Regions from separate parts of the Homo sapiens genome. Here all the other regions are linked to region 1. Evidence: fine-mapped expression QTL. A gene starts in region 1. Each other region holds a variant in brackets. All regions are shown on one strand. Distances are from middle to middle.

The links. PIP is the estimated chance that this variant, and not a neighbour inherited with it, causes the effect.
Region 2: its variant is fine-mapped to the expression of DCPS in breast (GTEx, PIP 0.94).
Region 3: its variant is fine-mapped to the expression of DCPS in whole blood (TOPMed, PIP above 0.99). The same link has a PIP of 0.9 or more in blood mononuclear cells and monocytes.
Region 4: its variant is fine-mapped to the expression of DCPS in whole blood (INTERVAL, PIP above 0.99).
Region 5: its variant is fine-mapped to the expression of DCPS in whole blood (TOPMed, PIP above 0.99).

Annotation. Positions count from the first base shown.
Region 1 is chr11:126,301,386-126,306,487 of GRCh38, reverse strand. DCPS (decapping enzyme, scavenger) reads right to left here and starts at 2,428. Exons shown (of 6, transcript NM_014026.6): 1 at 2,207-2,428. The coding sequence starts at 2,407. It overlaps TIRAP-AS1 (TIRAP antisense RNA 1), which reads left to right and starts at 2,166. Exons shown (of 2, transcript NR_187388.1): 1 at 2,166-2,300. RefSeq lists an enhancer at 393-682 and a silencer at 2,341-2,470.
Region 2 is chr11:126,352,573-126,357,674 of GRCh38, reverse strand. It overlaps ST3GAL4 (ST3 beta-galactoside alpha-2,3-sialyltransferase 4), which reads right to left and starts at 1,989. Exons shown (of 11, transcript NM_001254757.2): 1 at 1,833-1,989. GSEC (G-quadruplex forming sequence containing lncRNA) reads left to right here and starts at 2,088. Exons shown (of 2, transcript NR_033839.1): 1 at 2,088-2,233. RefSeq lists enhancers at 1,031-1,180, 868-1,611, 1,612-2,353, 2,354-3,097 and a silencer at 1,771-2,150. The variant G/C (reference allele first, on the strand shown) is at 3,122.
Region 3 is chr11:126,328,086-126,333,187 of GRCh38, reverse strand. It overlaps DCPS (decapping enzyme, scavenger), which reads right to left. Exons shown (of 6, transcript NM_014026.6): 3 at 1,638-1,783. Among named protein-coding and RNA genes, the nearest start is that of GSEC, 25 kb to the left of the region's middle. RefSeq lists enhancers at 1-40, 4,080-4,802, 4,803-5,102. The variant C/T (reference allele first, on the strand shown) is at 2,993.
Region 4 is chr11:126,231,035-126,236,136 of GRCh38, reverse strand. It overlaps FAM118B (family with sequence similarity 118 member B), which reads right to left. Exons shown (of 9, transcript NM_024556.4): 3 at 1,050-1,142. The coding sequence starts at 1,135. It also overlaps a transcript of SRPRA not described here. Among named protein-coding and RNA genes, the nearest start is that of FAM118B, 22 kb to the right of the region's middle. RefSeq lists a silencer at 4,157-4,357. The variant A/T (reference allele first, on the strand shown) is at 2,367.
Region 5 is chr11:126,084,330-126,089,431 of GRCh38, reverse strand. No RefSeq gene overlaps it. Among named protein-coding and RNA genes, the nearest start is that of CDON, 24 kb to the right of the region's middle. The variant G/A (reference allele first, on the strand shown) is at 2,723.

The DNA of each region.
Region 1 (5,102 bases):
TTTGAATTCCCAATACTTGGGATTTCCTTCCCTGAAGTCTTCCCTCTGGGGAAGTCTAGCCAATGGCACTCACATTTCACATTTCTTTTCTCAGAGAAGGCATCTTTTTTTTTTTGAGATGGAGTGTTGCTCTGTTGCCCGGATTGGAGTGCAATGGCGCGATCTTGGCTCACTGCAACCTCCACCTCCTGGGCTCAAACAATTCTCCCGCCACAGCCTCCTGAGTAGCTGGGATTACAGGCGCATGCCACCACATCTGGCTAATTTTTGTATTTTTAGTAGAGATGGGGTTTCACCATGTTGGCCAGGCTGGTCTTGAACTCCCGATCTCAAATGATATGCCTGCCTCAGCCTCCCAAAGTGCTGGGATTACAGGTGTGAGCCACCATGCCCAGCCAGAGAAGGCATCTCCACCCAAATCCTTGTGGCAGTTCTCACACCTTTCTTCCCCAGAATACAAGGCTTCTCAGTTGTCTTCCATTTTAGGCTTACAAGACCTCTGTCAAGTTCTCCCCATTTCAGAAGATGAAAAACAGACCTTGAGTGACTTGCCCAAGGTCACATGAACAGTCAGCATTGAAACAGAAACCAGAACCTAGGTCTCCCAAGTGACTCCTAGCTCGAAGGCTCTCATGACTAACACCTTCAACAGGTGCTGCACACTGAAGACAGCTGGGCTGAGAGAACCAGACAGAATCGCATACAAAAAAACAGAAAACAAGAAACAAAAACAAACAAACAAACAAACAAAAAACAACAAAAAACAAGGCCCAGCGCAGTCGCTCATGCCTATAATCCCAGCACTTTGGGAGGCAGAGGTGGGTGGATCACCTGAGGTCAGGAGTTCAAGACCAGCCTGGCCAACATGGTGAAACCCTGTCTCTACTAAAAATACGAAAATTAGCTGGGCATGGTGGCAGATGCCTGTAATCCCAGCTACTTGGGAGGCTGAGGCAGGAGAATCACTTGAATCCAGAAAGTGGAGGTTGCAGTGAGCCAAGATAGTGCCATTGCACTCCAGCCTGGACAAGAAGAGTGAAACTCCATCTCAAAAAAAAAAAAAAAAAAAAAAAAGGCGGGTGCGGTGGCTCACGCCTGTAATCCCAGCACTTTGGGAGGCAGAGGCAGGCGGATCACCTGAGGTCAGGAGTTCGAGACCAGCCTGGCCAACATGGTGAAACCCCCATCTCTACTAAAAATACAAAAATTAGCTGGGCATGGTGGCGGGGGCCTGTAATCCCAGCTATTGGGCAGGCTGAGGCAGGTAGAATAGCTTGAACTCGGGAGGCAGAGGTTGCAGTGAGCCGAGATCACATCACTGCACTCTAGCCTGGGTGACAGAGAGGAGAGACTCCGTCTCAAAAATAAATAAATAAATAAATAAAAATTTAAAAACCAGATACACACAGAGGCATGGAAGCCTAGGCCAAGGTTCCCTGATCCTCCCAAAGGTGAGAGTTCCTGCTAGTAGTTCTAGGGAACCCCCTTATCTGCCCTGGCTAGGCCTCCTCACTAGTTTCTGGGGAACCCCCATATCTGCTCTGGCTAGGCCTCCTCACTAGTTCCTGGAATGGTCTCCATCTCTCCTCAGCCCCTGCCAGATTGCTGAGCACGTTGGTATTGGAGCAAGCTGTGTGTATCTGTCTCGCCAGAAATATTCCGTAGTCCTGAAGATCAGGGATGGTAACTTTCGTCTCCACATCCCCAGTACCTAGTTTAGTGTCTGGCATGCATGAAAGTGCGTGCGTAGAACTGAATTAACAATTATAATATATTGTTCTCCTGTTACGGCTGAAGTCGCGTAAGGCAGAGATCACATCTCCTACAGTCTCATGTCGTTTCCACGGACAGGGATGAGCGAGACATCTAACATTGACTGGGTTCCTAGTCCCTGTATACATAAATGGATGATGAATGGCTTGGGGAATGTAACATGTGATCTTTAATCTGCAATGCACTCTCCCAGTAGATATTTCTAGTGGAGACATTAGAAAAATTAGAGCTAGATGTGTTCATTGCCTTAATTTCAAAGGCAATCTTGCCGCCTTTCACCGCCCCTCTATGCATTCTAGTGGCGCACTCCCGCCTCCCCGGAGTGATAATGATTGGTATTTTCCAGCCGAGATCCGAAAAAAAAAAATCTGCCTCCGAGGCGATGATTGGTTCACTGCTTCCCGCATCCCACCTCAGGGTTGCCTCCTGGTACCTTCCCGTGTAGGAAAATGATTTTGTCCCGCGCAGACTCCCTCAGCACCTTCTGCAGTCTGAAGCCGGAGAACGGTAAGCGGACAGGAGCACAGGTACCATTTCCAACTCCTGCCTCCTTTTCCTCTGTGCTGGCGGCGTGGGCCTCCTCCACGTCCAATTCGCGCTTCCTCTTGCCTAGTTGAGGAGCTGCGTCCGCCATGCTGCCGCGGAGGCGGTGTGCGCCTGCGCCCCCTGCGCTGGCCCCGCCCCTAGCCCGAGTCCAGCGGCCTGGCTGGGCTGCTAACTCCCGGCCTACCCTGCTCTGGCACCCGCTCCTGCGGGATGCGTGCCGCGCATGGCGGAGCCCGCTGACCTGTCCCAGGGCGCGCCTTTCAACCGAGTTACTGCCTTTGGCCCCGTTGTGGTGCCGGCCGGCCCTCAGGGAAGGGAAAAGAAGGCTGAGAGTCCCGAAAGCGGCGGGCTAGAGGTGGCTGCGCAGTGAAGAGGGACCCCCAGGCCCACGCCCCGGGGTGGGAGCCGAAGACGCCCTTGGGCCACGGTAGTGTTGGAGCCCTTGTTTGAATACTGACATTTTAATCATAGTTACACCGACGTTGACCAATTATCGGGGAAGCAACGTTTCTGACGCAAATCCGTGAGCCCATTTGATTCCTTGGTCGATTTTTTATACCGAGTATTTAAGCCATTTCCATTTTTCTCCCATTTTAATTACTTTGCAGAAATTTTCATCGTGGTCAGTTTTTTACTTTGTAGACTCAGTACTTTTCTGCTGACAAAAAAGGTAAACGAATATGGCCAGAAGAACCATCTCCACCACCCACTTATTTCCGGGCTAGAGGCATCCCCCTCCTCTCTATTTTGTTTACCTGTATTTCTGCCCTGCTACCCAGGGATATGATTTGCAGTATGATTCGTCTCCCAGGGTTTCGTTTCTCTTTTTTTTTTTTTTTTTTTTTTTTTTTGCCATATAAAATTATTACTTGTAACTTCTGCTGTTGAGGGTTTCTTTGGTGACCATTGTTTCTGGTTAGCCCGTTTTTCACTGGTGTTATTTAACAGATCTAAATTTTGTGAAGAGTTGGTACTTACGGACAGGCGCGGTGGCTCACGCCTGTAATTCCAGCACTTCGAGAGGTCGAGGTGGACGGATCACGAGGTTAAGATACCGAGACCATCCTGGCCAACATGGTGAAACCCCGTCTCTACTAAAAATACAAAAATTACCCGGGCGTGGTGGCCCGCGCCTGTAGTCCCAGCTACTCGGGAGGCTGAGGCAGGAAAATCGCTTGAACGCGGGCGGAGTATTGTAGTGAGCCGAGATCGCACCACTGCACTCCACCCTGGCGACAGAGCGAGACTACGTCTCAAAGAAAAAAAAAAAGAGTTGGTACTTACATCGCTTCAGTCAGCCACACATTTATTTTGCCAGTGATTTGAGTTTAGGTTTTCAGACAGATCTCATGGGTGTGGGACAGTTTTTGCCATTCTCAACGTTAGCAACAAGATGCAATTTACAGTCAGTTTTTGGTCAATAACAAAGTGTACCATGTGTTAGTTTGATTTTTGGATTACTTCTACCAGAAATATAGATTAGGAGTTGGATAAAAGACTACTTTAGGCCAGGCGCGGTGGCTCATGCCTGTAATCCCAGCACTTTGGGAGGCCGAGGTGGGCGGATCACGAGGTCAGGAGATCGAGACCATCCTGGCTAACGTGGTGAAACTCCGTCTCTACTAAAGATACAAAAAAATTAGCCAGGCGTGGTGGCGGGCGCCTGTAGTCCCAGCTACTTGGGAGGCTGAGGCAGGAGAATGGCGTGAACCCGGGAGGCGGAGCTTGCAGTTAGCTGAGATCGCGCCACTGCACTCCAGCCTGGGTGACAGAGCGAGACTCCATCTCAAAAAAAAAAAAAAAAAAAAAGGACTACTTTGTGTGTGTGTGTGTGTGTGTGTGTGATGCAGAAAGCATTATTAGGAGAGACTTAGGATCTGTCCCCCAGGCTGGAGTGCAATGGCGCGATCTCGGCTCACTGCAACCTCTGCCTCCAGGTTCAAGCGATTCTCCTGCCTCAACTTCCTGAGTAGCTGGTATTACAGGCGGCTGCTACCACTCCCGGCTAATTTTTTGTATTTTTAGTAGAGTCAGGGTTTCACCATGTTGGCCAGGCTGGTCTCGAACTCCTGACCTCGTGATCCGCCCGCCTGGGCCTCCCAAAGAGCTGGCATTACAGGCGTGAGCCACCGCACCCTGCCAAAGTAGCTATGTTTTAACAAAAAGAGCCCATAATTGAGAGCCATGAAGTCGGGCCCCAACACTGACTAGCTGTGCAACTTTGGAAAAGTCTCTTAACCTTTCCAGGTCTCCATTTTCCATGTGCCAGCGGCTATTAGTTCTAAGCAAGACAACGAGGCCTCTTCTTTCATAAAATGTATATTCAAATGGGGTACATGAGGTAAACAAGATAATGATTAAGAACTGTTTTTTGTTTTTTGTTTTTTGTTTTTTTTTGAGACGGAGTCTCCCTCTGTCGCCCAGGCTGGAGTGCAGTGGTGCGATCTCGGCTCACTGCAAGCTCCACCTCCCAGGTTCACGCCATTCTCCTGCCTCAGCCTCCCAAGTAGCTGGGACTACAGGGGCCTACCACCACGCCTGGCTAATTTTTTGTATTTTTAGTAGAGACGGGGTTTCACCGTGTTAGCCAGGATGGTCTCAATTTCCTGACCTCGTGATCTGCCCGCCTCAGCCTCCCAAAGTGCTGGGATTACAGGCGTGAGCCACCGTGCCCGGCCAAGTACTGTTAATAGGACAAAACTGGACAGTGTGAAAGAGCCTGGGGATAGGAGCCCCCCCCCCCCGCCCTTTTTTTTCTTTCTTTGAGACAGAGTCTCACTCTG
Region 2 (5,102 bases), 51 kb before region 1:
AGGGAGCCCTTTCCAGGATTAAAAGTCCAGAAAGGAGCAGATTCTTAGTTCTATCCAGAAAACCGGATTCTAGGAGTCTAACGAGGTTGGGAGGCTGGCGGGGGCACGGCACTCTCTTCCTGAGAAGCAGAGGGCCAGTCACTGCTTCCCGTAGGGAAGGCAGCCCAGAGGCACCTCAGCCTGGGCCGCCAGCTCACAGAGAAGGCGGCCCTGTTGTCTCTGAACAACAACCCATCCCCAAGCTAAAGACACCCACTCTGCCCAAAGTCCAAGCTGGCAATTTCCAATTCACTCTTCTAACTCTTCCTTCCATGTGCACCCTCACAACCTCGGTTACCATCTTGGAGTCTGGGGGATCTGGCCCCAACTCCTGGCAAGCTCCCCATGTCTTGACAGAGCCCAGGGCCCATGGGGCAGCTTAGGATCACCCACCCAGCGCAATGGGGCCAGGCACAGGAGCAGTCTGGGAGTGGGCCAGGAGCAGGGCAGGGAACGGTCAAGGGGCATTCCCAGACCAGCTCTCAGCAAGCAAAACAACCTCCCGAGTTCATTTCTAGGCCCCAAACAGCGGGCACGTCCCCGGAACCCACTCTAGAATTATCGGGCAGCTTTGGAGAGTAACAGCATGGGAGAAATATTACCAATAGTGAATATTTATACAGCTCTCCCTCCGTGCAGGCGCCTTTCAAAGCACTTAGCATATATCAACTCATTTAAAATCCCCCTGGCAGATGCCAGGGCCAGGACCTAGAGGAGGTGGAGTCTGTAGGACGGGTCCGGCACAGCTCAGGAGACAGTGACACGGGTGTGTGTCTCTTGTGAGAACTCAGCCTGTACCAGGCCTGTTCCCAAAGTTCAAAAAGAATGAGTCCGCCTGAGCCTGGCTTCCACGCGGTACCCGCCTCCGGCGGTGGAAAGTACAGGCTTCCCCAAGAGGCCTGTGGGGGGTGCCAGCTTGTGGGTGGCCATGAGGTCAGACAGGGCACAGCTGGGCACCCGAACACTGCCTACACTCCCAGCCTTCTGGCAGCAGTTCCCTTAAGCCAGGCCCTCAGGACCCAGGCTGGGGAGCAGAGGAAGCAGCCACAGTAGGTCAGGCCTCAAGCTGCCCAGACAGAGCCTCCCCCCAGGACTGGGAATGGAGGGGCAGTGCTGGCAGACATGTTGGCAGTTCTGGGCTGGCCGGGAGGTCCCTGCCAGCCAGGTCCCCGAGGAAACACCCACAGCAGACAGCTGAGCCCACTCCCCCCATCGCATCCCTCCCACTGCTCACCACCCATGCAGCCCTGAGGCACAGTGGCCTAGGCCTGACGACCCCCATAACGTGGCCCTAGGACCCTGGGCACAGCCGGCCTCCCACTGACAACTCCACCTTTGGGTCCTGCTCAGCGACCTTGCGACTCCTGCACACAGGCGGACCCCGCAAAGCCTGTCACCTCCAGCACAGTCAGCTCCCAAGTGCTGGACCTGACCGGGGTAGTTGTGGGAGAAACCATCGCTCGAGGATGCTGGAGGTGGGGGCCGCCGCTTCAGTCCGGGCGCAGGGCTGGGGGATTGGGGGCGGAAACTTTCCGCAGAACTGTCCCGCTTGCTCACTCCAAGGGAACGGAGAGGATCCGGCTTCCCGCGAAAATCTGGTCCAGGGAAAGGGACCCCGGAAAGCAGCTCCGCAGGGCTGTGGCAGCCCCACCCCGACCCGCGCTGCGCCCACGTGCAGGGCCCGACCCCCTCCGGGAGGCGCGGCGCCGGCTGGGGTCAGGCGGCCGAGGACCCCGCGGCTCCCCGCCCCGCCCCGCCCCGCGGGCCCCCGCGCACCGCCGCCGCGTACTCACCCTCACGGGTGGAGCGGGGCGGGGCAGCACGGTTCCGCGCGCAGCTCCGATCCGCTAGGCGCACCGACCGGCGGCGCAGCGCTGGCGCGACGGCTCGACTCGGCCGGGTCCCTGTCCCGGGCGCGGGTCCGGCCTGGGAGCGGGCGAGTCCGCCTGCAGGGGAGGCGGGGACCCGGGCCCGGGTTGGGGGCGGGGAAGGGGCTGGACACGCTTGCGCACACGGCGGCCCGACTCCCAGGAGCTCCCGGGAGGGGTAGAAAGGGCGGGGTGGAGGAGGGGGAAGGGCGGGGGTGATGCCGCGCGGTCGCAGGCTTGGGATGGTGTTCGCGCCTCCGAGACCCGGACAGAGGCAAGCAGGGGCGCCGTGGGTGCCAGAGAGGCGGAAGAGGAGGCCTGATGGGGTGAGCACAGGGCCAGGGCAGGCACTGCCTGTGAATGGCGCCAGGGTGGGTATGCCCAGCGCAGCCAAGGCGCTCGCTCCCGGGAACAATGAGAATCAAGAAAGGGTGCAGTGCTCTATCCCACGGGGAACGGTGTCCTTCCCTCACTGGGGAAACTGGGGCAGGGTCCTGTTCCGGGAGCCTATGCTTCCCGTGCCCCATGCACGCAAGGCAGCCAGTCAGTCCCCTGGGCCCAGACGTGGGCCCTTCCTCTGCTTCGGTTGGGGCCTGCTGCCCCTAAACTGCTCTCTCTGCACCCCTCACTTGCATACTCTTTATCTTGGCCTCAGAAAGTTTCTCAGTTTCCTTTCCGTTATTGAAGGCGCCAGGCATCCTGTCTCCAGGAAGAAACCCCTGGGCCCCTGACCCTGGTTCTTTGGACCCAGGCATCCCCCCAAATAAACCTGGGAACTGCCCAGGCTGAAGAACAGTTCAGAAGTCACCCTACAGGACAATCCACAGCCCCTTAGGCCAGTCCCTTTCACAGGTCAGCACAGTGTTTCCGGAGCCCCACGTATCAACAGCCCAGTGCCGGGAGCGCCAGGGGCTCCAAGGAAACTATCAGACCCATTCCCTGTCCCCAGGAAGCTTACCATCCAGCGGCACAGAGAAGGCTCACCATGGACTCCATTCAAGAACGAGGCAGGATAGGATGTGAATAAGTGCAAGGTGTGAGTGACTGACAGTAAGTGCAAGGGGGTTCAGAGAAGTGGCAGCTCCAAGCCTGCTTCTGCTGAAGCTGGAGGGCTTATCTGTCAAGAACCCCCAACTCAGGAAGCTCTGCTCCAAGTGAGCTGAGTAAGGAGAGTCTGCCTCCAAGTTGTTCCTCTGCAGGTGACTGTGCTCCAT[G/C]CTAAATCATTCCTTGCACGGGCAGAAGCTGTTTGGCATTGCACCAGTGTCTGATTTTGTTTGAATATGGTGCCTTTGGCTTAATCAGTCAGACATGCATTCAACAACTATTTATTTATTTATTTATTTATTTATTTATTTATTATTTTGAGACAGAGTCTCGCTCTGTCGCCAGGCTGGAGTGCACTGGCGTGATCTTGGCTCACTGCAACCTCTGCCTCCCGGGTTCAAGTGATTCTCCTGCCTCAGCCTCCCGAGTAGCTGGGACTACAGGCGCGTGCCACCATGCCCAGCTAATTTTTGTATTTTTAGTAGAGACGAGGTTTCACCATGCTGGCCAGGATGGTCTCGATCTCTTGACCTTATGATCCGCCCGCCTCGGCCTCCCAAAGTGTTGGGATTACAGGCGTGAGCCATTCAACAACTATTTATTGCATGCCATCTCCAGGCCTGGAATTAAGCTGGGTATAAAGAACACAATGACTAAGTCCCTGCCTCGGGCAAGTCGAGGAAGAGGGAAGAGCCTCCTTGTTCTACAGATGGGAAGACTGGCCCAAAGGGAGTAAGCAGCTGCCCTTCATAACTAAGTGAATCTGACAGAACTGATCCAAGCGTCAGCCCAGCCTCTAAACTTGGCCATTTGATGAACTAGATCTAAGCACAGTTTGCAGTTCTTGCCGTGAATCACGTAAATGTCACTCTACCAGAAAATGGAACTTAAGAACCAGCATTTGTTCCTGGAGACCTGAGTTCCAACTCTTGTCTCTGCCACTAAATAGCTTTAGTTTTCTTACTGGGGTGGGGGGAGGGGAAAGGAAATAACTGCTTATTCAAAGGGCTATTGTTGGCATTAAATCAGGCAATGGATGCGAATTTGGTCTGAAAGCATAACCTGCTATATATAAGTGTGTGCTGTTACTATGCAGGTGGCGTGCCTTTTCTAACCTATAAGCTGTATTCAGGCCTCTCCCCCAGCTTATCCCAAGCCTGGTTACTAGGTGCCCAGAAGCTAACCGTAATTCTGCTCCCCTCAGGTTAGGCCACAATGTGCTTACTCATGATGATCTTTTCCCTCCAGTTTCTTAACAGCATGGCCACAAGCTTAGCTCACTGCCTAGAAGCCATGTCATCTTTGGGGCAGGAGGGAAGCAATTCTGGTGCCTTTCTCCTCTTCTCTTCTCTCTTTTTCTTTCTTTCTTTTCTTCCTTCCTTCTTTCCTTCCTTCCTTTCTCTCTCTTCTTGTCTTTCCATCTTTCCTTCTCCTCTTCTTTCTTTTTCTTTCTTTCCTTTCTTCCTTCCTTCTTTCCTTCCTTCCTTTCTCTCTCTTTTTCTTGTCTTTCCATCTTTCTTTCTCCTCTTCTTTCTTTTTCTTTCCTTTCTTCCTTCCTTCTTTCCTTCCTTCCTTTCTCTCTCTTTTCTTGTCTTTCCATCTTTCCTTCTCCTCTTCTCTTTTTCTTTCTTTTTCTTCCTTCTTTCCTTCCTTGCTTTCTCTCTCTCTCTTCTTGTCTTTCCATCTTTCCTTCTCTTCTCTTTTTCTTTCTTTCCTTTCTTCCTTCCTTCTTTCCTTCGTTCCTTTCTCTCTCTCTTTTCTTGTCTTTCCATCTTTCCTTCTCCTCTTCTCTTTTCTTTCCTTTCTTCCTTCTTTCCTTCCTTCCTTTCTCTCTCTTTTCTTGTCTTTCCATCTTTCCTTCTCCTCTTCTTTCTTTTTCTTTCTTTTTTTTTCTTCCTTCCTTCTTTCCTTCCTTCCTCTCTCTCTCTCTTTTCTTGTCTTTCCATCTTTCCTTCTCCTCTTCTCTCCTCTCTCCTCTCCATGTGCTTTTTTGGCCCCAGGCCCCCCTTTGGTGCAACTACAACACATGATGAGCGGCTCAGCAAGAGGCAGTAGGATGGGATAAGCAGGGCTTTGGCCCATGGGGACTGTTTCTTTTGGATGTTAACTGTGCCAAAGTGGGACCAAGGCAACCAGAGGAACAACAGGTCT
Region 3 (5,102 bases), 27 kb before region 1:
TCTCCGAATGGAACTGCATAATGGTATATAATAAGGAATATACATGGCCAGGCACAGTGGCTCACACCTGTAATCCTAGCACTTTGGGAGGCCAAGACAGGCGGACTGCCTGAGCTCAGGAGTTCGAGGCCAGCCTGAGCAACATGGCAAAACCCCATCTCTACTAAAAATACAAAAAAGTAGCCAGGCATGGTGGCAAGCACCTGTAATCCCAGCTACTCACACCAACCACATCAGGGCTTCCTTACTTGAATCTCAGGTCTGCACAACCAGCACAACAGAACAACTGTTCCAGGAGATTCCCTAGGACCCTGAACAGCAGAAACTCTAAGAAGGTGGAGATATAGTTCCTTTTCACTTGGAAAACAGAACAAGTGCTGGGACTTTAAAAACAAACAAACAAACAACAACAACAACAACAAACAAGTCAGCTTGAGCCAGATGCACCCCACGCAAACTGCTGCCCAGGGAGACCAGGGCTGAACCAGGCTGGGGAAGGGGGCTGGCGGCACACAGGTCTCCCAAGGAAACTTCATTCCTGCAGGCCCTGTCAGCCTCCCTTTCCTTACTCCTGTCAAGTACAATTCACCTTGCAGTGCCCACACACACAGCGTACCCTCCCTTCTTCTGGGCCAGGGAGGAGTGGCTGTGAGTTCCTCACATCACAACACCCTCCACCACAGTGACCTGAATCTTGGGGAGAAAAGTGAGAAATGCTCGAAGAGAACAAGGGTGAGTGATAAAGACAAGGCACAGTGTCAGAGTCAGTGAGTGGGCAAGAAACTGACTCATCAATAAGCATCAGTCATATTTAACTCTGAGTACTCACATGGGGCCAGTTCCAGGCAGAGGCTCCAGTTGGCGCTGGGCCTAGGCCCAGGGAGGAGTCAGGATCTTGGAGCTAAATGGCCTTGCATCTGGCCTGGCCAGACGACTGCCAGCTTGTGAATGGAGTCCCTGCACCAAATCCCCGGGGCCAATGGGGTCCTGCCTTCTTTTGGACGAATGCAAGGGGGAGTCGGTGAGGGAAGAGTTTTTCCTCTGAGACTGAGATCCTGCAGGCCGGTTTGCCGCAGGTGAAACCAGGAATAAGAGTCTGGACAGGGTGGGACTCACTCAACATCAGCCTTTTACCCATTCATGGACCCAAAGCAATGGCACAGTCATCCCGAGGCTGGATCAAGGCTACTGCAGAGCAGACACACATTCTTCCAAAGGACTGGATTGCTTTGAGGTCCCCAGAGAGCCTCCATGGCATGCCCAAGCACATCAGGTGGGACCAAGACCAGCATCAGTTCCCCCACCCCCAAAGCCTTCTCTCGCCATGCGATATAAAATGGCAATTGCCCGCCCCAGGCCTTCTGGTCCCACTTATCCTGTCTATTTCTCTCTGCAGCCCTCATTATCTCACAGAGCACATAGATCCTGAGATATCTGTGTATGGTCACACACCGTGTGACTGTGCATGGGATGTAAGCTGCACGAGGTGGGGATTCTGTCCGCCATGCTCTCTACTGTACCCCCATCCCCTCGCCCAGCACAGCGCCTGGCCCCTAATATGACCCCAATAGACACTCGTAAGAGGAGGCACCAGCCACGGGAGCAGTGCTCTGCGTCTGAGACATGCAGCCAGTCACCTGGATGCTGAGGCTCTGGGACTCCAGGTGGGGTAAAGTAATATTCCTGTAGTCATCTCCCGTCTCTCGGATCAGGCGGAGGTCCTGGCGCAGGTACTTCTGCAGGTGTTTCTCTGTGGCAGGGTAAACCACGGTCGTCTTTACATCTGCAATGATACAGCACAGCCCGTGACAGGGAAGCAATGCCCACTCTCTATGCCACAGGCACCACGGTGAGGAGAGAACTCCCACCCTGGCTTTGATTCCCTGAGGGAAGCCAAAATCCAAGAGGATCATGCACCCAAGATCCACTCCCACAGAGTGCCTTGTGCCACTGCATTCACGAGCTGAGCCACACTCAGAATCTGGAAAACACAAGGTTCTTACCTGTGGGTCACTGGGCCCCTCATCAGGCAAACCCCAGCCCTTCCTGCTCCATCTTCCAGGCACAGGAATGAGAGGTCTCTAACTCTTCTCACATACCAAATTTCTAGGTATGTGGCTTTCTGGACCCAAAGCTGAAAATATGGCTTAAAGGCCGGGCGCAGTGGCTGACGCCTGTAATCCCAGCACTTTGGGAGGCCGAGGCAGGCGGATCACCTGAGGTCAGGAGTTCGAGACCAGCCTGACCAACGTGGAGAAACCCCATCTCTACTAAAGATACAAAATTAACCGGGCGTGGTGGCGCATGCCTGTAATCCCAGCTACTCAGGAGGCTGAGGCGGGAGAACCACTTGAACCTGGGAGGCAGAGGTTGCAGTGAGCCCAGATTGCACCATTGCACTCCTGCCTGGGCAACAAGAGTGAAACTCTATCTCAAAAAAAAAAAAAAAAAAAAAAAAAAAAAAAAAATATATATATATATATATATATATATATATATGGTTTAAAGCCCAGTAGTCCCCTTAATGATGGGCAGTGCAGCAGAGCGCAGTGGTTCCAGGCACAGACTCTGCAGCCAGACTGAGTTCAAGTCCTGGCTCTGCCTGCTCCTTATTCTGAATGGGACCTTGGCCCCACCCGGGAGCACGGTTCAGCTGTTTAACCTCTTGGTGCCCCTACTTCTTCATCTGCCAAATGAGGATAGTAAAAGCTCCTGTGTCATAAGGCTGGGAGGATTAAACAAGTCAATTACCTGTGAAGTTCTTAAAACAATGTCTGGCACACAGTAAACACCACATAAGTGCTGTGATGTTTAATCCAGGGTTTCTCAATCTCAGCACCACTGACATTTTGGCCTGGATAATTCTGTTGCAGGGGCTGTCCTGTGCATTGAAGGATGTTCAGCTGCATCCCTGTGGCCTCTGTTGGGATGTTAGTAGCACCCTCCCCAAGTTGTGACAACCCAAAATGTCTCCAGACATTGCCAATGTGTC[C/T]CCTGAAAGGAAAAAGTGTCCCCAGGTGAGAAGCACAGTTTTAAACTAGAAGGATGTCTTGCAGTTTTCCTAAACAGACTCTAGGCTAGCTTCCTGGTCCAAAACCACCTGGTTTTGGTTAAGTCCTTTCCTTTATTTTTAAAAACATCTGGTACAATTGTCATCATTACTCTAACATGTATACATTGTGTTTTAACATAGATCTTAGGGGTATTTCCAAATCAGCTTGGATCTTTCTCAAAAGACCCATGGTTCCCTCTGACTTTCTTAATCTGGGTTCGGATAGGCTCTCCCAGGGAAACCCGAGAGAGCTGAAAACCCAGCGGGCACATTTCACCACCACGAAGTCCTCATACTCACTCACACACCGCAAAACCCGGCTAAGAACTATCAACCTATACTTTCATATTTGGTCTGAGGTCATAGGTGGTTTTAACCCCGCTTTCATACGTCAGTGAAGAGGGTGGGCTGGGACTCAAAAGAGTCATCCAGTATCACACCGTGAAACGTGGCAGAGGCGAACCTGGAACTGAGGCCATCTCACCCTAAAGCCAGTGCTCCTGCAACACCACAGGCTACTTCCAATTTCTACTTCCAAGTCCCAGTGGGGATGCACAGAGATGACATACCAGGCACGTGGCTTCTGTCCCATCAAACATCCCAGGCCCTCAGCTCTGGGTGGCACAGCAGCACAGTGGGAAGACATGGCCACTGGCCCCAGGCTGGCCACATGACTCTCCATACTGGCTGTGTACCCTTGGGCATGGGGCTTAACGTCTTAGAGCCTTGGCTTCCTCACCTATTAAAGGGTGGTCATCAAATCTGCCTCACAGAGTTGTTTACATTCAATAAAACGTGTCAGCTGGATCACGAGTTGCTAAATAAATGTCACCCAATCCTGGGAATCCCCGGATCTGACCCTGAAAAAGGGGCATGAAGGCCTCCTCACAACTCTCTGAGGAGCAGCAAAAGACTCTTTCTTGCTTCTCACTCTGTTCTCTAACAGCTCAGCGTCATAGGTCATGGGCCAGAGGTCAGAGGTCAGGCACACCAAGATCTCAAGAGGCGGGAGACTGCTTGAAGTAGACTGAACGGCACCACCTTGGCCCTTGCAGTGGACCTGAGGGAAATCCATACATCTGCAGTGGAGCTTGGTGGATGAGAACAGAGATTTTGGAGCCAGTCAGCCTGGGTGCAAGTCCTGGCTCTGCACTTATTAGTGGCGTAACCTCAGGCTAGTGACTGACACTGTCTGTGGCTTCAGTCTCCTGACTTCTACAATCTGGGGTAACAATAACAGCACCTACCTTCCAGGGCTGTTGGGAGAATTAAACGAGTCAGTAGAAGGAAAGATTCAGGAAGTGCCTCACATGGAGAAAAGCGCTCCCCCCAGGCTAGCTTGGATTCTCTCCGCTGTTGCCTCCGTTGCCTGGGTTGGGCAGTGGAGCTCCCTGAGAGTGGGGGAGAGATGGGCAGGGCACAGAGGCAGAGCGGGCGCTGGAGAGCAGCCGGGTTCTGCGGGCAGGGTCACCCAGCCGGGCTCCCAGCCTGGGGCTCCTGGCTGCTCCAGATCAGAAAGCCACCCGGCCTGTGAGCATGCCCTGGTCTGCCGAGGCCTGTGGGAGACCTGCCCCAGCCACCCAGGGTGCAGGGAAACTGGCGTCTCACCCAGCCAGCCCCTCCCGCCTCCCCTCAGCAGCAAGAGCATCCACAGGTGCTTATTTTCCAACTGCTCACTTCCTGCCATCCTCCTGCCTTTCCTGAGGTGCACCTGCAGGGATGGGAACCTGACTGCAGGACTCTCAGAGCTCCCCACGTCCCCCTAGAGCACTCACTCCTAAGGGGCCTGGCTTCCCTCAGGTCTCCACCGAAAGCCTCAGTCAGGGCCACACTGAGGTGGGAGCTGCCACCCTCAAACTGTCCCCTGCTCCACAGCTCCCGCGCTTCCTGCCGTGGACTACGAGGCTGTTGGTCACCTCGCCCTGGCCCTCTTTCCACCTTCATGCACTGCCTCTCTCCCGCTTAGGGCCTCTGCTCCAGCCGCGCCGGCTCCCCACTGACCCACTAACTCGCGTCAGCCATGGGCTCCTCTCCAGGCCGTGCCCTGGCC
Region 4 (5,102 bases), 70 kb after region 1:
GAATGGGAAATAGCAAATATCAGGAACGCAACAGGACTGGAGAACAAGTGTCCAGAGTGGACTAGCATCCAGAAGGAAGAATCCATGACACAAACCAGCAAGTTATCGGTGTGTTTCAGTATAGCTAGGAGATTTATTCTTCTGTCAGAGCATGTGAGAATACATTGAAAGCAAACAAACAAACAAAAAAGACAGTCTTTAATGACATAAGCAAAAAAAATGGGCAAGAAAGGAAACATAATCGTTACGCATTAGGCTCAGCTATGAATACTACTTATACAGTCGTAATAATGTAAATATTAAAAGTGGATTGAACCAGGCCGGGCACAGTGGCTCACGCCTATAATCCCAGCACTTTGGGAGGCCGAGGCGGGTGGATCACGAGGTCAGGGGTTCGAGACCAGCCTGACCAACATGGTCAAACCCCATCTCTACTAAAAATACAAAAAAATTAGCTGGGCATGGTGGCAGGCACCTGTGATCTCAGCTACTCAGGAGGCTGAGGCAGGAGAATTTCTTGAACCCGGGAGGTGGAGGTTGCAGTGAGCCAAGATCGTGCCACTGAACTCCAGCTTGGGCGACACAGCAAGACTCTGTCTCAAAAAAAAAAGTGGATTGAACCAAACACTGTGACACAAACATACAAGAACATGGGGAGAGTGTGTGGAGTGGCAATACAGAGGGAGGAGTCATGAGAGCAAAGCAGTCCTTATATTCCATACTCAGAAATCAATAAAACCAAAAAACTAAAAAGCAGCAATATATATAGTATTTTCAAACATGGATGTCAACATTAGAAGAAACAGGTAAAGTTGAAAGTGATTATCTCTGAGGAAGGGCGGACTTTGAAATACTGATTTTAAAAACTATGTACCTGTACTGCCTTGATAAAAAATAAAAATTAAACCCAAAATAAAAACAATTTAATTTTGAGTATGAAGGTCAATACTAATTAGTGAAAACAACTGATATAGAAGGTATAAGTTGGCTATTTTTCTTTCTCTCCCACTAATGGTAATTTACTCTGCTGATTCCCTTCTCTTGTTTACCTGGGCTTTTTGGTGGGAGGTTCGCCATCGTTGAAGAATCCAAAAATCTCGTCTATATCAGAGGCCTGGCTCCCTGTAGAAGCCATCCAGTTTCTAAAATAGATTAAACACCATGAACCACAATTAGATCTGTAAAGTATACTATTCAAAATAGCACATATATTAAACAGTTTAAAAAAGCTGTATACCCTTAAAGGTGTTTTGGAGGTGCCCCCTACTTAACAGAAATTTGTTAATTAATGAACATTCTAAACAAGGAGCTAAATTAAATTAGTCTAAAAGAAGTAATCTGGAAATTATAGGACTTTGGTGCTCCATACTACCATCTTGCTTCTGTTTCTGAAGGCCTGCCCCCAAGTTCCCACCAAAAACAGTGTCAACTCATGTCAATTACTGGCCATCACTTTGTAGAACTTAAGAAAAACCAGTTATTCTCCCACAAGATGGGTTTGCGGAAGACTCAGGGGATAAAAACCACCCATAGATAAGTGTATTAATAGCCCCCAATTACCCATTTACTCTCAGCTGAAGAAATTACTGAGTCAAGAACAGAACAATCAATACTAATTTGCTGAATGACATTCTCTGTTGTTGGACGATGGTGACCTTGTAGCCAGTGGGGCATGTCTCTCTAACTAAACATGAAGTGGACTTCAAATCAAGCCACTGTGATGACTGGTAAATGTATCATCAAGCAAAGATGTATGAAAAATGGCCAATTATGTTCGGGTGCTGGAATAACTGGCAAAAGTAAATAATTACCATGGATTAGAATGAATACTATAAAGTTCTAAGTGCTCAAACTTTGGCAAACTTGTTAAATCTAAAGACTGTGAATTTAAAAATAGTAATAGTATTTTAAACACACACACAATATAGAAGACAATACATACTACCACCGTTTGGGGTGTTTTAGTACATTCCACTGGCAACATATAGAACTGAATTACTAATAATTACTGCAAGTTTACTGTTTTATTAGAAAGCCCTTTTCTTTTCTTTTTTTGAGACTGGGTCTTGCTCTGTTGTCCAGGCTAGAGTACAGTGGCGCCATCTTGGCTCACTGCAGTCTCGGCCTCCTGGGCTCAAGCGATCAACCCACCTCAGCCTCTCCATCACCTGGGACTACAGGCACATGCTACCACATCTGGTGGAATTTTGTACTGTTTGTAGAGAGGGGGTTTTGCCATGTTGCCCAGCTGGTCTCTAACTCCTGAGCTCAAGTAATCTTCCAGCCTTGGCCTCCCAAAATGTTGGGATTACAGGCATGAGCCACTGCACCCAGCCCAAAAAAGCCTTTTTCTTTATTAAAACACT[A/T]AGTTTCTGAATTAATTTTTTGTGGTAAACAGAAGGCTCACATCCTCACCCCATAGTCCATCACACGCAGTGTAATTCTTCTTTATATCATAATCATAAGGTAAATAGAAATAATACAGTCACAGTAGTGAGTTAGGAAGTAGATCATGTTTCCAGTCAAATCTTTGATTCTGTTGGTGAGAAAGCTGGGGCTCAGGAGAAGACAGATGAGTCACTTATCTCAGTAAATCCTGCCTTAACACAACCATGTAGGTTTTTCTGGGTTTTTTGTTTTGTTTTGTTTTTGAGACAGAGTTTTGCTCTTGTTGCCCAGCCTGGAGTGCACTGGCGCAATCTCGGCTCACTGCAACCTCCGCCTCCTGGCAGTTGCTCCCTTCAAGCAATCCTCCTGCCTCAGCCTCCTGAGTAGCTGGGATTACAGGCATGCGCCACTATGCCCAGCTAATTTTGTATTTTTAGTAGAGACAGAATTTCTTCATGTTGATCAGGCTGGTCTCGAACTCCTGACCTCAGGTGATCCGCCCGCCTCAGCCTCCCAAAGTGTTGGGATTACAGGTGTGAGCCACCGCACCCAGCTGGGATGTTTGTTAAAAGTATATATATTCTTGAAAATAAAGTTAATTCATTAAATTAAAAAAGTTTGTTTCTAGGCTCTACTCCAAAATTACAGAATCAGATTCTCCAGAATCTTCCTTCAAATAGGAAACACCTAAATAAGATGCAAACTTAATTTTTCTACAATGCAACAATTTTGTTAAATATAGGATGCACATGAAGTATACCATTAAGCCATCTTCCCTTAAGTGTAATAACTTATTACAGTCTAACGACTTCCCAGTTTGCTTATAACAATAGCCAGGTTTTAAGTGTCCTTAAAATATTTTTATGAAGTTTTAACTTATGTGACTCACTTCCGATTCTAAAAGTCAACGCTCTAGAATGGTGAACTAGGGGTAGAATGTGTTTACTTCTTCCACACACAGGACAATCCATTAGTTTGGGGATATATATTTTTTTAAGTTTTTTTAAGGAAAAAATATATTTTTTTAAAAAAAAATATTTTTTAAGTTTTAAAAAAACTTTAAAAAACTTAAAAAAATATATTTTTTAAGTTGTTTTTAAGGAAAAAACTTAGGTGCTTAAGTTCTTTTCTTAAATATGGTTCTATAAACCCATCATCTAAACAGATGACATGCAAGTAAAAACACTATATTGAGAGAGATGAAAGTAAAATGTAGAGGGAAGTTCATGCTTATTAAGTTTTGAAGATGGACATCTTCAGAATTCAATGCTCAATTCAGCTACTAAGCCAGTTTACAAGCTCTTAACTACATGCCATGGACTATTTATAAACATTAACTCATTAATCCGCATAACCTTACGAGGCATTGTTCTTACCTTATTTTACAGATGAGAAAACTGAGGCACAGAAAGATCGGGTACTTGGTAGTACCAGTATTCAAACCATGGCAACTGTGCCTCTCAAGTCCAAGTTCTTAACTACACTATTGCTAAACAGGAAATGCTCAATGGAACATTTCAGATTTCAGATTTTTTGGACTAGGGATGCTCAACCGTTAAGTATAATGCAAATATTAAAAACAAAACAAAACAAAAAAATCCCCTAGAAATCCAAAACACTTCTTTCTGCTCACAAGCATTTTAGATGAGGAATAATAAACCTGTATTAACTTTTCAGCCAAAACAAACAAAAAAAAACTTAAAGTCCAAAACTATCAACAAAGGAAGTGCCTGCATTCTAGAAAGGAGATTTACTTGAAGTAATGCCAAGTAATCCTTAACAGCTGCTTGTTAACTAGGTACTCCATTGATGCAATCTTGGCAGTCAACTACATTCAGAAGCTGGGAAAACTACTTTCTCCAGTGACAAGCACTATTTGTTATATACTTCTCACTACCACTTATCCACCAGAGCCTAGATCTGTCCTACCATTTTGTCCTGGAAATTACGTAAGATCGTTTTTGCTGGATTCTATTTCTGCCAGATGGTTAATTCATGATGTCTAGACCTGAATACTAAGCTTTCTGACTTATTTCTTTACACAGTCAACTTTTCTGAAGGTCCATTCCAACTACTATTACTTTAAAAAATTAAATATAGCCAATCGCTTCTGACTGAGAATGTTTAGGGTCTTCTTATTTAGGTACTGAATGAGACGTAGCTCAGCATGCCTACATTATATCCAATCATATACTCATCCTGTTTTCTAACAGAGAAACATATTTTCTTTACCCTAAAGGATGCCTCACATGATACAATCTCACATGTATACCCCAGTGGCATATAAGCACAAACCATATTTTATTCCTTCTAGAGTACTGTTTTCAGGAAAAAAAAATCAATTTTAGCATGTACCCTAAACAAAATGCAGTTATTGCTAAAGAGCTTCAAAGCTAGTTCACACTTTAATTTTTTTTATGTGATCACGTTTGAGTTTTCATTTTTGTGGGACTTGCTATGTATAGCAAAAATGGAAAATGTTTTTCTGCCACAAGAAAACAAAGTCAATTACCTGTGGCAGTGTCTTCATTACCTCAATTACTGCTAAGCCACTGAGAAATCCTTCAAGGCCAATAGAGTACAGCAAAATAAAAGTCAGATACTTGGTAAAAGATGAGCAAAGTAACAGCAACCTCATTAACAGAAATGTTAAGGCTGAAGTCTTCATATGAGACAGAACACTTGTACTTTGAAACCTGTCAGCTTGGCAGGAA
Region 5 (5,102 bases), 220 kb after region 1:
TTATTGCAAGGCTGGGGGAGGGGAAGGGACTATTGCAATAGGGAGAAGGCCCTGACCATCCTTCTGAAAGCTTCTTAGGAATAAGGCAGACAGGAATTTTTTTCCTTTCTAGGGAAGAGTAAACAAGGCTAGAAAGAAGCAGGTGTGGGGAAGGGGGTGGGTGATGGGGCAGCAGGGTCAGGCAGTGAGGCAGGGGCTGTTTGACCCAGAGGCCTGCCTCTTGTCAGGAAGGGCTGTTTGCTGGCTCAGGCTGAGGGTGCCCAAAGTCCAGGGGCCTTGAAAAAGAAACTCTTCAATGAAGTTTGGTTACAAGCATTTTGTCCCAATTGATCCGTGGAGACAAGCAGCTTAGCTAATCATTGATGAGGCAGAGCAAGGGACTCTGGAGGGTCTGTGACTGGCCTTGTCATAGGTAAAGTCTTAATCTAAGTCATTTGAGGAAGGGTGGGGTTCTTTGCCGTAAGCAGCTTGCTTTACATATTTTTGGGGGTTTAATTTGCAATATAAAATTCTAATAGACACTTTTCTCGCTATTATTTACTATGAAATATTTGGTTCCCGTTTTTAGTGGATTCACTGTAAGTGGCCATTTTCCGGGATCAATTGCCCTCCAATAATGAGAACCTTCTGCTCAGCCCCAAGAGCCTGAGACTCACGCCGGATGTCGCTGGCCATGAGCATGAAATTCCTTCAAATTCTCACATTTCATCTTAAAATATTTTTATAATCTATAATATACTTCTGATAAATTACTTGTTAAATTACTTAAAGTTTTCCCTAAAGGTCTTTAACCAAAAGGATCCTCTTTCTTAAGAGCCATTTTTATCCTGTGGCTTCACACACCCTGTGGCATATTGGATGTTTCCCTCAGGATATAGAAACTTTATTTGAAAAGCTTGGCCATAAAGAATGATCCAAATTACTTGGGCCTTGATGTTCAGAGGGGAATGTTGCCAGCCAACGACCATACACAGCCATAGAAAGATCTCAAAAATGTTCTCTTAGAATATCTAGCTTGGAGCAATGCTCTGATGGCTCTTTGAGGAAAGTTAATTGTAAATGTACTCTTGAATTGCTAGATTGATTTATAACTTTAAGTCTTTTTGAGCATGATTAGATATCTGAACCCAAGGTCCCCTGATTATACTCCTATGTCATGTCAAACAGAAGATGTATCCCATCTCCATTTAAAGAACTCCTCATTTGGTGATGAAAATCAGTTTCTTCATCTTCCTTTTTTTTTTGACAGGATCTCACTTTGTCTCCTAGGCTGGAGTGCAGTGGTGTGACCATAGCTCTCTGCAGCCTTGAACTCCTGGGCTCAAGCGATCCTCCCACCTCAGCCTCTCGAGTAGCTGTGGCTGACTACAGGCATGCACCACCATGACCAGCTATTTTTTTATTTTTATTTTTTGTAGAGATGGGTCTTACTAGATAATCATAGTTTCTTTTACTGTGCCTTTACTACATATCAGAAACAGGGCCAGCATTTTGCATGCATTATCTCTAACTCTCCTAACAGCCTGTAAGGAAGTTGTTACTATCTTCTTTTAACAAATGACAGAACAGAAAGGTTAAATGATTTTGCTAAGGCCACACAGCCAGAAGGTGGAGGTTATAAGGCTCATACCCTTCCCATTAAAGCAGAATACCTTAGGCTTCATACTTGGGTTAGGTTCATAGTATCAGTGACCAGAATGCCCCTTACCCCAACTTTTTCAAATACCGGTGGTCTCAACCAGGTTTTGGAGAGAAACCGGACAACAGCCAGTGCAAGGTTCAGCGCCTCGATAACAGTCCAACGCTCAGAAACTCTACTCTAACTGGAGGAAGACCCTCCAACTTCTTTTTGCTTTCTTCTTACTCACCTTTTAGGGGCAGCATTTAATGATATGGAATATTCTTTCTGTTACAGGAATAAAGTGAAGTAATTTGTATTTAATAAAATTGCGCACGCTCTCTTTTAACCCATTTTTTTCCCCAGGTCGATATTTTTACATGGGGAGCAATTGGAGTTTTCAAGCTCAGCCACTCCATTATTGATCATTGATTTACTATCTGTGGTTGTGAACGAATCTGTCTAAACCAATAGAAGATTGAGGGGGTTTTTTTGTTTTGTTTTTTGTTTGTTTTTCTTTTTTTTGAGACAGAGTTTTGCTCTTGTTGCCCAGGCTGGAGTGCATTGGTGCAATCTCGGCTCACCGCAACCTCTGCCTCCCAGGTTCAAGTGATTCTCCTGCCTCAGCCTCTCGAGTAGCTGGGATTACAGGCATGCACCACCACGCCCGGCTAATTTTTCTATTTTTAGTAGAGACGGGGTTTCTTCATGTTGGCTAGGCTGATCTCGAACTCCTAACCTCAAGTGATCTGCCCGCCTCGGCCTCCCAAAGTGCTGGGATTACAGGCATGAGCCACTGCACCCGGCCAGATTGAGGTTTTTTCCTCACCTCTCGTTGGCCTTGACAAAGGGGCCAGGAAGTGGACCACATATGAAGAGTATAGATCCCTAGTTGCTGATGTACATATAAAACACGCATTTTGATACTGCCATGAAAATCAAAGTCCACAGGAAGTATTTCCTGGCAGAAATGTCGTTATAAACATTTTCCAAATTTTTAAATTATAAAAGTATTATAAAAACTCTAAACCAGAATGTCATTCTTTTTCTTTTTTTTTTTTTAGATGGAGGCTCACTCTGTCGCCCAGGCTGGAGTGTGGTGGC[G/A]CGATCTTGGCTCGCTGCAACCTCTGTGTCCTGGGGCTGCTCCTGCTAGGGTGTCACCATGGGTCCCCAAGCTGATGTGATGCTGTCAGCATCCTGTCGGCACCTCCTTGGCCTGTACCATTTCGGGGCATGCTGGCTGACATTCCGACTGCCAGCTTCTATATCACTTGCCTGAGGCCTTTCTTTGCCTGCTGCAGCCTGCTTTGCCCACATATGTGGTAAACCAGACACACCGGGGAATTCATGCTCCTAGAGCAGCCCTCAACCATTGATTGATGGGAGTTGGTATATATGCCCCAGCTCCCTCCCCGCCTCAGGTAGGATGATTCAGAGGCTGTTCAACACTCCCAGAATTCCTCAGTGGGGATGAGCTTTAATTCCCTTAGTAGGAACTAGCTTGGTAACACACCTTTTTGGGGGCCTTTTTTCCTTTCCTGTCTCACTTGCCCACTCTCCTACTAGTGTTTACTGGGATCAAACAAATGACTTGTATTTGAATCCCTTTCTCCAGGTCTGCTTCTAGGGGAACCCAAACTAAAATGGATGGGTTATGCTTAGATCAAACTAAAGTGATACAAGACCATTCTTTTGGGCCATTTTATCTTGTACCCTCATCAACGGAGTCTTATTACTGTAGGGTGTCAACTAAAGACATTGCCAATCCTGTTACTCAGCACTGCCTATACGAATTTCATTGTGAGAAATTTCTTCTAAAACTTACAGCTGGAAAAAATTTTGCTTAGCCTGACACGCTGGTATATTTCCTTCATTCTGGTAAAGAGAATTAGATTCCAGACATCTGTCTGTCTGTCTCCTTTTTTTCCTCTCTCTTTTCCTCTCCAGATTTGCCTTCAGGGAAGCTCAGAAGCCAATCTGGAGTCCAATAACAGCAAATATGCAGGACTTTATCCCCCGTGTATGTGTGTTTCTCTTCCCTAGTCTTGATTTCATTTCGTGTATATTTTCTGTGATCCTAGTTATTCATTCTTATTTGGACTTACTCCTGCTTTAGTGCATGCATCTCTTTGCAAGCCGCCAATACTCTGTGGAACTAGTGGCCATGTGAATAAGGTGTTTAAGAAGCACTTCTTTAATGAATTATATTTGGATGCTAACTGTGCAAAGATATTGTTATGAAACTAGAGAAGTATGAGTCTCCCCTCCAGAGCACCTTCTCACCTTGTAGGACAGTGCTTTTTCAACTCTCTGGTTTCTGTAATTGTCTCCTTGGATGAAATCTTACATGGAAGATATGGCAAGTCAATAAAAAGAAGCTGTTCTGGTTGAGATGTGTGAGTGAGGGGATAGGAAATCCTTTCACTCAGCTTGGGAATCCTCTTCCGCTACACCCCCTACACCCTGTCTTTTGGTCCCCCAGGCACCAGCTTCTAAACTTGAGGTCTTTGTAGAGCACTGGTTGACAAACAGCTTTAGAGACACAAGCAGGGTGTGGGCCTTTGATGCCAGGGCAGTGCTGGGGACAGCAGCTGCGCACGGAGCTGTTCTGCCGCCACCCAGGAAAGGGGGCGCTCACTGCTGCAGGCTGTCTACCCACCGGACAGGGCTGTTCTCCCCAAGTTTGCCTTATCACAGGCGCTGACCTATAGGTCAAGAAGCAGCCTCGGCTGGGCACGGTGACTCACGCCTGTAATCCCAGCACTTTGGAAGGCCGAGGTGGGCGGATCACAAGGTCAGGAGTTCGAGACCATCCTGGCTAACATGGGGAAACCCTGTCTCTACTAAAAACACAAAAATTAGCTGGGCGTGGTGGCGTGTGCCTGTAGTCCCAGCTACTCAGGAGGCTAAGGCAGGAGAATCACTTGAACCCAGGAGGCAGAGGTTGCTGTGAGCCAAGATCATGCCACTGCACTCCAGCCGGGCAACAGAATGAGACTCTGTCTCAAAAAAAAAAGAAGCAGCCTCAGGGCAGTTTCCTCCCCAGCCCACTCTGTGTCACTCCATAGCTCGCTGGGCCCTCTTCTGGCCCTCTTGACACCTCCTCAAGTCCCCTCCTCAAGCCTGGTGCGGATGGGCAGGAGCAGGCTGGGACAGAGGTGAAGATCCAGGGGCTGGCTCGGCAGGAGAGGCAGGTGTGTGAGGAGACAGACCTCTGGCTCTGCCTCTTTTTCTGGAAGCTATCGGTTCTAAGCTTAGACACCAATGCACCCCCCACCCCCAGCCCGCACTGTTTGTCTAATAAGGAAACCTTTTTGACCTAGCCAGTTAAAAGTCCCGGCCCTTCACCTCATTACTGCCAAGGCCAGAACTAAAGAGGTGAAAGCTGGCAGCCTTGGGCTGCCTTCAACTTGGCAACTGGCCCTCAGGGTCTGTGTCTCGAAGTCCCAGCCTTTCAATAGGGCTGTGTTTTCAATCCTGCTTA